Regions from separate parts of the Homo sapiens genome. Here region 2 is linked to region 1. Evidence: fine-mapped expression QTL. A gene starts in region 1. The other region holds a variant in brackets. All regions are shown on one strand. Distances are from middle to middle.

Region 1 (4,404 bases):
ATTTTTAGAAAGCTAAACGTTTGTGAGAATGTGAAGAAAGAAGATTATCCACTGCTAAAAGTATGCTGGAAAAAAATTTAGGATATCTGGTAAAAGTGTACATGCTCTAAAACCAAGAAATTCTGTAATCAGGTATGTGTCCGAGATTTTCCAGGCTATGTGTATATCAATGTTCTCATTTTACAAATAAAGTAATCAAAGCCTAGCTCTTTTTACTATTAATATATATAAAACTACTTAGAACTTTTAATATATATTAAAAGTTAACTATTTTAACTTAAAAGTATTTATTTTAACTTAAAATAAATTTTTTTATATTAAAAGTTAACTACTTTAACTATTTATATATATAAAACTACTTAGAAGTTTTAATATATATAAAACTACTTATATCCTGGTATATATTAAGGATTATATAATAATATATAGTTATCTATGATCATCCTCATCCTCATCATCAATAGTCAGTTGTAGGTGAAATTCTATTAATTAATACTGACAAATAACACATTTTAGGTGCTCATCATTGGCTCTCCGGAGGAGTATTCTAACAGCTGAATTAAAAACCTGCCAATATTTGACCAGACGATCAAGTTTGGAGGACGTCCCTTCCTCTCCCACCCAGAGCCACGCTCTTGCGTGCTTCCACAGTGACAGTGTGACCTTTTGAAATTTGGAGATCATACTCTCATCCTTGAAAACGCCCCACCGCCTTCCCTGGGGCGGCCGGCCTCCAGGTTCGCGTTCTACCTGGTAGAATCCCTTGACAGTTTCAGTACCTGGCCGCCAGGGCTTTGGGTGTTAATGCCTTCCTTGGACGGGAGGCACTGGGGAGAAGAGAGGGAAGGCGCTGAAACCCACCTGAGAAGGCGGGCTGGGGGAAGGCACCCCGGGAAAGAGGTTTTCTCGGGTGCCAGCACCCGGAGAGAGCTACTCTGGGGCCAGGCAAGCATCCCGCCTAGGCTCCCTAGTGCATATTAGTGAGTAACACGACTGGCGCGCGAGGTGGTCCATTTTATTTTTGGTAGCTAGACGCCAATAGGACGCACCACTTCAGCTCCAAACGGGAACTGGTGGCCCCAAGATGTTTTCTTTTCTTTTTCATTTTTTTGAGACAGGGTCTCGCTCTGTCGCCCAGGCTGGAATGCAGTGGAGAGATCTCAACTCATCGCTACCCCCTCCTTCTGGGTTCGAGTGATCCTCCCACCTCAGCCTCAGTAGCTGGGACCACAGACACGCGCCACCACGCCGGCTAATTTTTATATTTTTTGCAGAGAAAGGGTCTCGCTATGTTGCCTAGGCTGGTCTCGAACTCCTGGCCTCAAGTGATCCACCCGCCTCGGCCTCCCAAAGTGCTGGAATTACTGGCGTGAGCCACCGCGCCCGGTCTGCCCCCAAGACTTTCATTGAAAAGATGGAATGGTCGCTTCTGTGCGGATCCTCCAAACCATCGTTGGGAGAGGCCTCCTTAAAGTCTAGGAGAAAAGTTGTTTGGGACCGATATGAAAGTAAGGCAAAGCCGGATGGAAGAGAGTAGCCGAAACAAGCAAGAAAAGGAAAAGCGATCGTGATGGGTTTAGGAAAGGTGATCTGGCGTGCTAAATGGCATTTCCGGAGAAATCTGAAAACTATTGCTTTACTGAAGTATAGCAAAGAGCTGTCCGGGCTCTGGAAACTCCTTAACGGATCAAAACGGATGCAATGGGTATCCTTCTCCAAAGACACACCTCAAACGGGCCGGGAGCCGGGCAGTTAGCCACCCGCTGCCTCCCCTTCCGCAGTCCGGCTCGCAGCCGCTCAGCTACCTCTAAAGCCCGGAGCAGGAAAGTCCGCGCAGGCCTGGATGGCCCGGGTGGTAATCTAGCAGGCCTGCACACTGCGCATGCGCAGGGGGTGGACTGCCAGGTCGGCTCAGGGAGCCGTGACGAGTCCGGAAGCGCCTGCGCGCGCTCCTCCGTACGAGAACTAGTTTTGTTCCGTGCCCTCTGGACTGGAACCTTTTGGAGAGAACCCCCGGCAGGACCAACCCCGCACCCGCCAGCACCGCGGCAATGTCCAGCAATAGTTTTCCTTACAATGAGCAGTCCGGAGGAGGGGAGGCGACGGAGCTGGGTCAGGAGGCGACCTCAACCATTTCCCCCTCGGGGGCCTTCGGCCTCTTTAGCAGCGATTTGAAGAAGTGAGGAGAAAGGTTTGGGTTGCGGGGATGGGAGGGAGGAGCTGCGGACTCGGAGGAGTGGGCGCCAGGGTGGGCTTCCTGGAGAGGAGCGGGGTCGCCCTGAGGTCTGAGCAGGGCAGGGCGGTAACGTGTCCCGCGGGTGGGTAGGTGGGGTTGGTTGGCGGTGGTGGGAGTTGTGGGAGTTTGGGGCGAATGTGTGTAGGGGTCTCTAGTAGTTTTCAAACTTTAGTGAAAAGGAAACCACTTGGTGAGCTTAGATCCCACCCCTGAAGACACTGATTGAATTGGACTTGGGCTGGGCTCAGGAGTCTGAATTTTGAGCATCGTCTTCTAGTTTATTTACCGTTCGCCGGATCAGACTTTAATACATTCCCTGATTAGGGTGAAAGGAGTGTTTTGGTGAAGGTGAGAGTGCGAGTGTTGCTTGTGGGAAGTTATTTTGTGACCCCGGAGTGTAGGAGCAGAGAGGTGGATTTAGGCTGTTTGAATGGACAAACTGGTTTACACCAGTATTAATGTTCTTGGATTATGTCCTTTGCACTACAGACAAAAACACCAATCCAAAATAAGCATATGAATAGAAAATATTTTAAAAGAGTGTTACTGTGAACAAATCCAAAACTTTTACAGATTAATAATGTGAATTTTAAAAACGAATGTTAAACAAGGTACACTTAGTTTTGTAAAAAGTATCACCGAGAAATGGAAAGAAATCCCAAGTTGTTTGTTTTGGGGGGTGGGTTGGTGGTAGTGGTTACATTTACCAGAATTATCATTTTTACATTTCTCTTATTTTAAATCTTTCATTACTAAGCAATAGGGTCACATAATAGTCTGTCACTAAATTCATGCTAAATTAAGGTAGAATAGCTGTGCTAGTAGCTTTGCAGATCTGTTAGAGGGTATAATTAAAATTTAAATTAAACGTTACTAACAATATTGGGTAGTCTAGAAAGTGCTACTACTTCAAATTGGGATTACATTTTGGCTGTATTGAGGATCAAAATCATATATATAGCATGTAAGATACAATCTTTTCCTTTTTCCCAAGGTTAGAAAAGTTTAAAAGTAAGGTAACTGATTTCATTTTTCATTATATGCATTTGATGATCCATTGTTCTAGAACAAGTACGGAGCTTGTTGCCTCTACTATTAGCAAAATGTTTAGACTGAATTAACCTGTATATCGGCATCAATCTGTTTCGCAAATTAATTTACTTTTATGGTTTGTGAACATCTACGATGTTTTCTCTTAGATTTTTGTCAGATTTGGGGCCAGGCACTGCGGCTCACGCCTGTAATCCCAGCACTTTGGGAGGGTGAGGTGGGCGGATCGCTTGAGGCCAGGAGTTCGAGACCAGCCTGGCCAACATGGTGAAACCCCGTCTCTACTAAAAATACAAAAATTAGCCGGGCGTGGTGGCTCGTGCCTGTAATCCCAGCTACTCGGGAGGCTGAGGCAGGAGAATCGCTTGAACCCGGGAGGCGGAAGCTGCAGTGAGCCGAGATCGCGCCACAGCACTCAAACGTGGGCGACAGAGTGAGACTCCGTCTCAAAAAAAGAAAAAAAAGAAAAAGATTTTTGTCAAATTTGGACCTGATTTGGAAAAAAAAAACAAAAAAAACTTACGGCTTTGACTCTGTGACCAGTGCTCTTGAGGTGACCTAACAGGTTGGATTTAAAATAAAAGTAGCTAATTGATTAGAGGTGATATGTAATATATGCAAATAACCATGGTTGAATTGTGTTCCCCGAAAGATATTTATTGAGTATTTGTGCACACCACTTTACATTTATTATCTCATTCAGTTTTCCTAAACAACCCTGCAGGTTATTACCAGGTACTTCTCTGCTCCCACTTTACACGTGAGGAAATTGGAGCAAGGTTGTTAACTTGGAAAAGGCCACAAAGGTAGAACATTGCACTGCCTGAATTTGAACTCAGGGGCTCTAATATTAGAGCCCATTCTCTCAAAAGTTTAGATGTGCTACTTACTACTTGATGAAATGTATGGTATTTTTATTAGTGAGTGCATACAACTCACAAAAAGTTTAAAACTTTAAATAGTAGCTCCAAGTAGTACCACCAGAGAAGCTTCCAGGGATTAGAAACATTTGGCTATTGACCTGCAGTCTAATGGAATTGTACAGAAACAAGGAGACCCCTGTTCTGGAAGTGGTCATTAAATCTCTCTTGAGTCCACATTTTCTCATTTATAAAACC
Region 2 (4,404 bases), 170 kb after region 1:
TAATGCCTTGTTACTAGATACATACACTGAAGAAACTGATTAATGTATGTAAATGTGTGGTGAATAACTATTCTGCTTATGGTTTTAGTGCATCATTGTACACAAATTTGTTTTTATCTTTTAGAAAGAATGTTATTTTTGAAAATACATTTTAATAAAACTTATTTATAAGCTTATAATATAATACATTTTACAGTCAATAAAAATTTTTAAATTATATAATTTTAATTACTTTAAATGCCCTACCTAACTTTCAAAATTGTTAACATATTGAAAATGTTTAATTTCCTAAAAATTAATTTTGGGCTAAGAAATATAAGCCAAATGTATCATTCTGCTAGCTCAAAAAAATCATTGCAATTAAGAGACTCTTTCTTTATTTTAGTTGCAGATTTAAAATCTCAGCACTCAAATGGACTTTAGAGTTAACCAAGTTGTAAATTCTAACTCCACATTTGAGAAAACTAATGATTAAGTGGATTTCCCAGGTTTTTCCAGCAAATTAATTACATGGTTTAGTGTACCACATTTTCTTTTAAGTTGGTTTTGAATTGTATTCCTCATTTGGTGAATACTTTGCAAATTGTCTTAAAAAATGAATCATAGAAATTTTCTTACCTGTACTTGAACCAGCATGGTCTAGCAATTAGTGAATAGCAATTGTTGGTAACCAAATTCAGAATAGCTCTATTAACATTTTCACTTGTATTTTTTATAATTCTACTTTAATAAAACTGGGTTAATCCTTTTTAACTACTCTGCTACTGAAATAAGGTTGCTTTCTATCAAATCAATTATCTTAAGCAATTATTGTAAAAGAGTTTACCACACCATTTCTGTACTTTGACTTATTGTTCTAGAATTGTCTTTAGCTCTGCCTAACTTGATTGATTTTATTTTTTATCTGCTTCTAATGTGCATAAAATCTTCTAATCTAAAGTAAATGATTTAGTGTTTCTCGGTTTATTTTTCCCATATATTATGAATTCTATTTGGCTTATAGTTAAAATTGTACACATGTAGCCTTCTTGTTAAAACTATGCTTTTTCAATAAAATAACTGTAGTTTAAAATACAAACCTGTTTTGTTAACATTTCAATTTTGGTTTAATTATTAAAATTATTTCAATATATGTTAATGTAGTACATTCAAAAATTGACTTAGGAAGTCTTATTATGGTGTAAAAGCTACTATAATAAGTTGTTCCCTTACATAAATAAATAAATGACCAATATTACTAGAGGCTATAAGCAGCTTGGGGGAAAAATGGAAGAAGTCTTTTATCCTAGTTTTCAGAGGGCATCAGCAGCTTGCTTTTATGAAAAAGTAACAGCTAAATGCACTGCAAATAATTTGCAGTAATCCAGTTCAGTGATTCATGTGTCTGCTTTAATGGGTCATAATTCAGGGTAAAGTAACTGAGTGCAGTCAGAGTGCAGACACTGCTTATGCCAGGGACAGTATCTCTTCATAAAACACACCTCAGGAGAAGCAGTTTGCCAGCCCCCTAATACTTTCTGATGTTTTGATGTCCTGCATATTTTTCCGATTAAGTTTTGAGTGCCATGTTTTTAGTTGTATTTCCACATTCATTATTCTCACGTAGACCCCTTCAGCGGGTTTGCCATATATGATTATTTTTTTAATGATGCCTTTCTTTCCACTTCAGCAGTTTAATAATCTAGCACATGGCTGCTTCTCAATACTCAGCATTCACCTACCCAGTACAGAAGAGGACATGTGCTTTGGCTTCAAAATTCCATTTGCAGCATTAGAAATGTGTATTCCCTATGGAACAACATTTGTTTGACATAACCATTCATTTTTATTACCTCTTTAAATATGTTTATCCAGAGTTATCGATAATCATAAATAACTGTATTCTCATCTTGATCTGTTTTTTTCCAACAGACAAAATTGCTTACCCAGTACATATTAAATCTCGGCAAGTATGATCAAAACTACGACATCAGAGACCGTACAAGATTTATTAGGCAGCTTATTGTTCCGAATG[T/A]AAAGAGTGGAGCTTTAAGTAAATATGCCAAAAAAATATTCCTAGCACAAAAGCCTGCACCACTGCTTGAGTCTCCTTTTAAAGGTATTATCAGAATATAACTCCAAAATATATGTTATCTAAAAAATTATGACAAGATGTTGCCATTTCTAATGTGCTTAAAATTTATCTCTTAGGAAATATAAATGATTCGCATATATAAATATATAAGAACAGCATGCTTTCTACTCATTCATCTGCTCTCAAAAGCAAGTTTTATATTAAAGTTTATATTTTTGTAGACCTTATTTACTAAATAATTTTAAGCGTTCTGACTTTATTCTAACATTTAAACTGGGCAATAGATGAAAACTGTCTTATTCTTATAAATAATGACTTCATTTCTCTTTTAAATAGTTTTATAAGAAATATAATTCCTTTTAATAGTGAGTTATTAAGTAAATATTCTGTGTACACTAATATCAGTTTTTCTAGGAGGAATTATTTTATAAAAAGTATCCCTCTATATTTAAACTGGTTTTTCAAAGAGGGAAGTTGACTTACGTGTCCCAGCTTTTTAAAAGGAGTAATTAAGTATTTTACCACCTTACAAGTAGCCATTCCAGTTGGAATCAAATAGTTACATACCTTGGTTTTCATATTGTTTCTTATTTAATGTTCTTATTTTAAAGCGATAAAAAGCAATTCAGTTTTGTAGAAAAACTATTAAAATTCTGGATGTGTTTGTGCCAAGACATGTATATGGATTGTTTAACTGTGCTGTCATTCTTAATATTCACAGTAAAGTAATTTTTAGAGAAGCTACATTTCAGAGCAACACCTCTAAACACACTGACTGATTAGCTTTTTTATTGACCATTATGGGGGAGATTATTGTAATCTATGGACTGAAATCAGTTTTTTGACCTATGAAGAGCTTCCTAGTCTATATTTATTCCTTGACATTTGAGGTAATATGCCAATTACCTTGAGCTCTGATTATGATTGTTCTCTGTTATATACAGCTCATATTGTTTATTTTATATTTTTCCCTATTTTTAATAGATAGAGATCATTTCCAGCTTGGCACCTTATCTCATACTCTCAACATTAAAGCTACTGGGTACCTGGAATTATCTAATTGGCCAGAGGTGGCGCCCGACCCATCAGTTCGAAATGTAGAAGTAATAGAGTTGGTAAGTTGACCTTTCTGAAATTAATTTTGCCAAAGCAGTGGAAGACTCTAGGATAGCTATTGTTTTATATAAAAGCTTTTTTGGAGAGTTGAAAATTGAAAATTGTTCTAGTATTTCTAAATGTAATGTGTTAGATATACCTTGCCTTTATAGCAACTAAATATTATAGTATTCCTATGCCATTGTACATGTACTGTTCCTTTTCTTCAAGGAAATAGAGAACTGAATTCTCTGCATCAGTGCCACCCACATTTGTGCTATTGCATTTGTAGCCGCGTAGATTCAATTTCTAAGGTATTTAGTTTCATTGGATGAAGTTTTTTCTACTTTGTTTAGAGATTTGTAAGCTTCCTGACAATATCCTTCTGAATAATTTCTGCTGTTCTCTTTCAGAAAAACCACACAAAGTGTTCTAGATTTTTTGATGAACCATTTTTAAGTGAAGCCTGAACATAAATAGGGAGCATTGTGTACCAAAAATGTCCTTTGACAAGGTCACAAAGTGAATAATATGGTGCTTTCTCATCAAAAACAAATTTGCTATATAAATACTCTTTTTCTCAATCTTTAAAAAAAATGCTGGCCATTGAGATAAAAGAATTAACATTCTTTTCTAATATTATCTGTTTCTTTCTCATATATACAAGAAAAAGTGAGAGAGGCCTTCTAATTGTATTTAGCAATTATGCAAAATATATTTAATACTTTAAAATGTGGAGTTAACAAAAAAAGCAGTTAAGAATTGTATTCTGGATACTTTTCTGGTGGAAAAGATACATTGAATTAGGATTCAGATAACTGGGGTTCTTTACTAATTCCTGTGGGAAAGTGAGTTAACCTCCTTGCTCTCAATTTTTCTGTATACAGTGGAAGAAAACCTTTATTACTTTAATAAATAGAATTTCTATAATGATCATGGCCATGTAATTTGATTCCTCTGAGAAATTATTAAATGTTTCTCTTAACCACTCCAACTTATCCTGGCTTTGAAGCATGGCCGGAATTAATAATAGCACTATTTAGGAACCCCTGACAGTGTACGATGATAATGTTTTATAAAAACTATCTTGTTTAAACCTAATAATGATTGTAAGGGATGGTTATTGTTATTCCCACATTGCAGATGAGGAAGCCAAGTCTTAGATAACTTAAAGTAAATCGCCTAAGTTCACATGGCAAGTAAGTGATAGAACCATATTCCAACCCAGGTCTGAG

The links.
Region 2: its variant is fine-mapped to the expression of AP3B1 in whole blood (TOPMed, PIP 0.96). The same link has a PIP of 0.9 or more in lung.

The regions. Positions count from the first base shown.
Region 1 is chr5:78,292,227-78,296,630 of GRCh38, reverse strand. AP3B1 (adaptor related protein complex 3 subunit beta 1) reads left to right here and starts at 1,933. Exons shown (of 27, transcript NM_003664.5): 1 at 1,933-2,179. The coding sequence starts at 2,052. RefSeq lists enhancers at 673-722, 1,097-1,670.
Region 2 is chr5:78,126,815-78,131,218 of GRCh38, reverse strand. It overlaps AP3B1 (adaptor related protein complex 3 subunit beta 1), which reads left to right. Exons shown (of 27, transcript NM_003664.5): 16 at 1,912-2,098; 17 at 3,059-3,189. Among named protein-coding and RNA genes, the nearest start is that of AP3B1, 170 kb to the left of the region's middle. The variant T/A (reference allele first, on the strand shown) is at 2,015.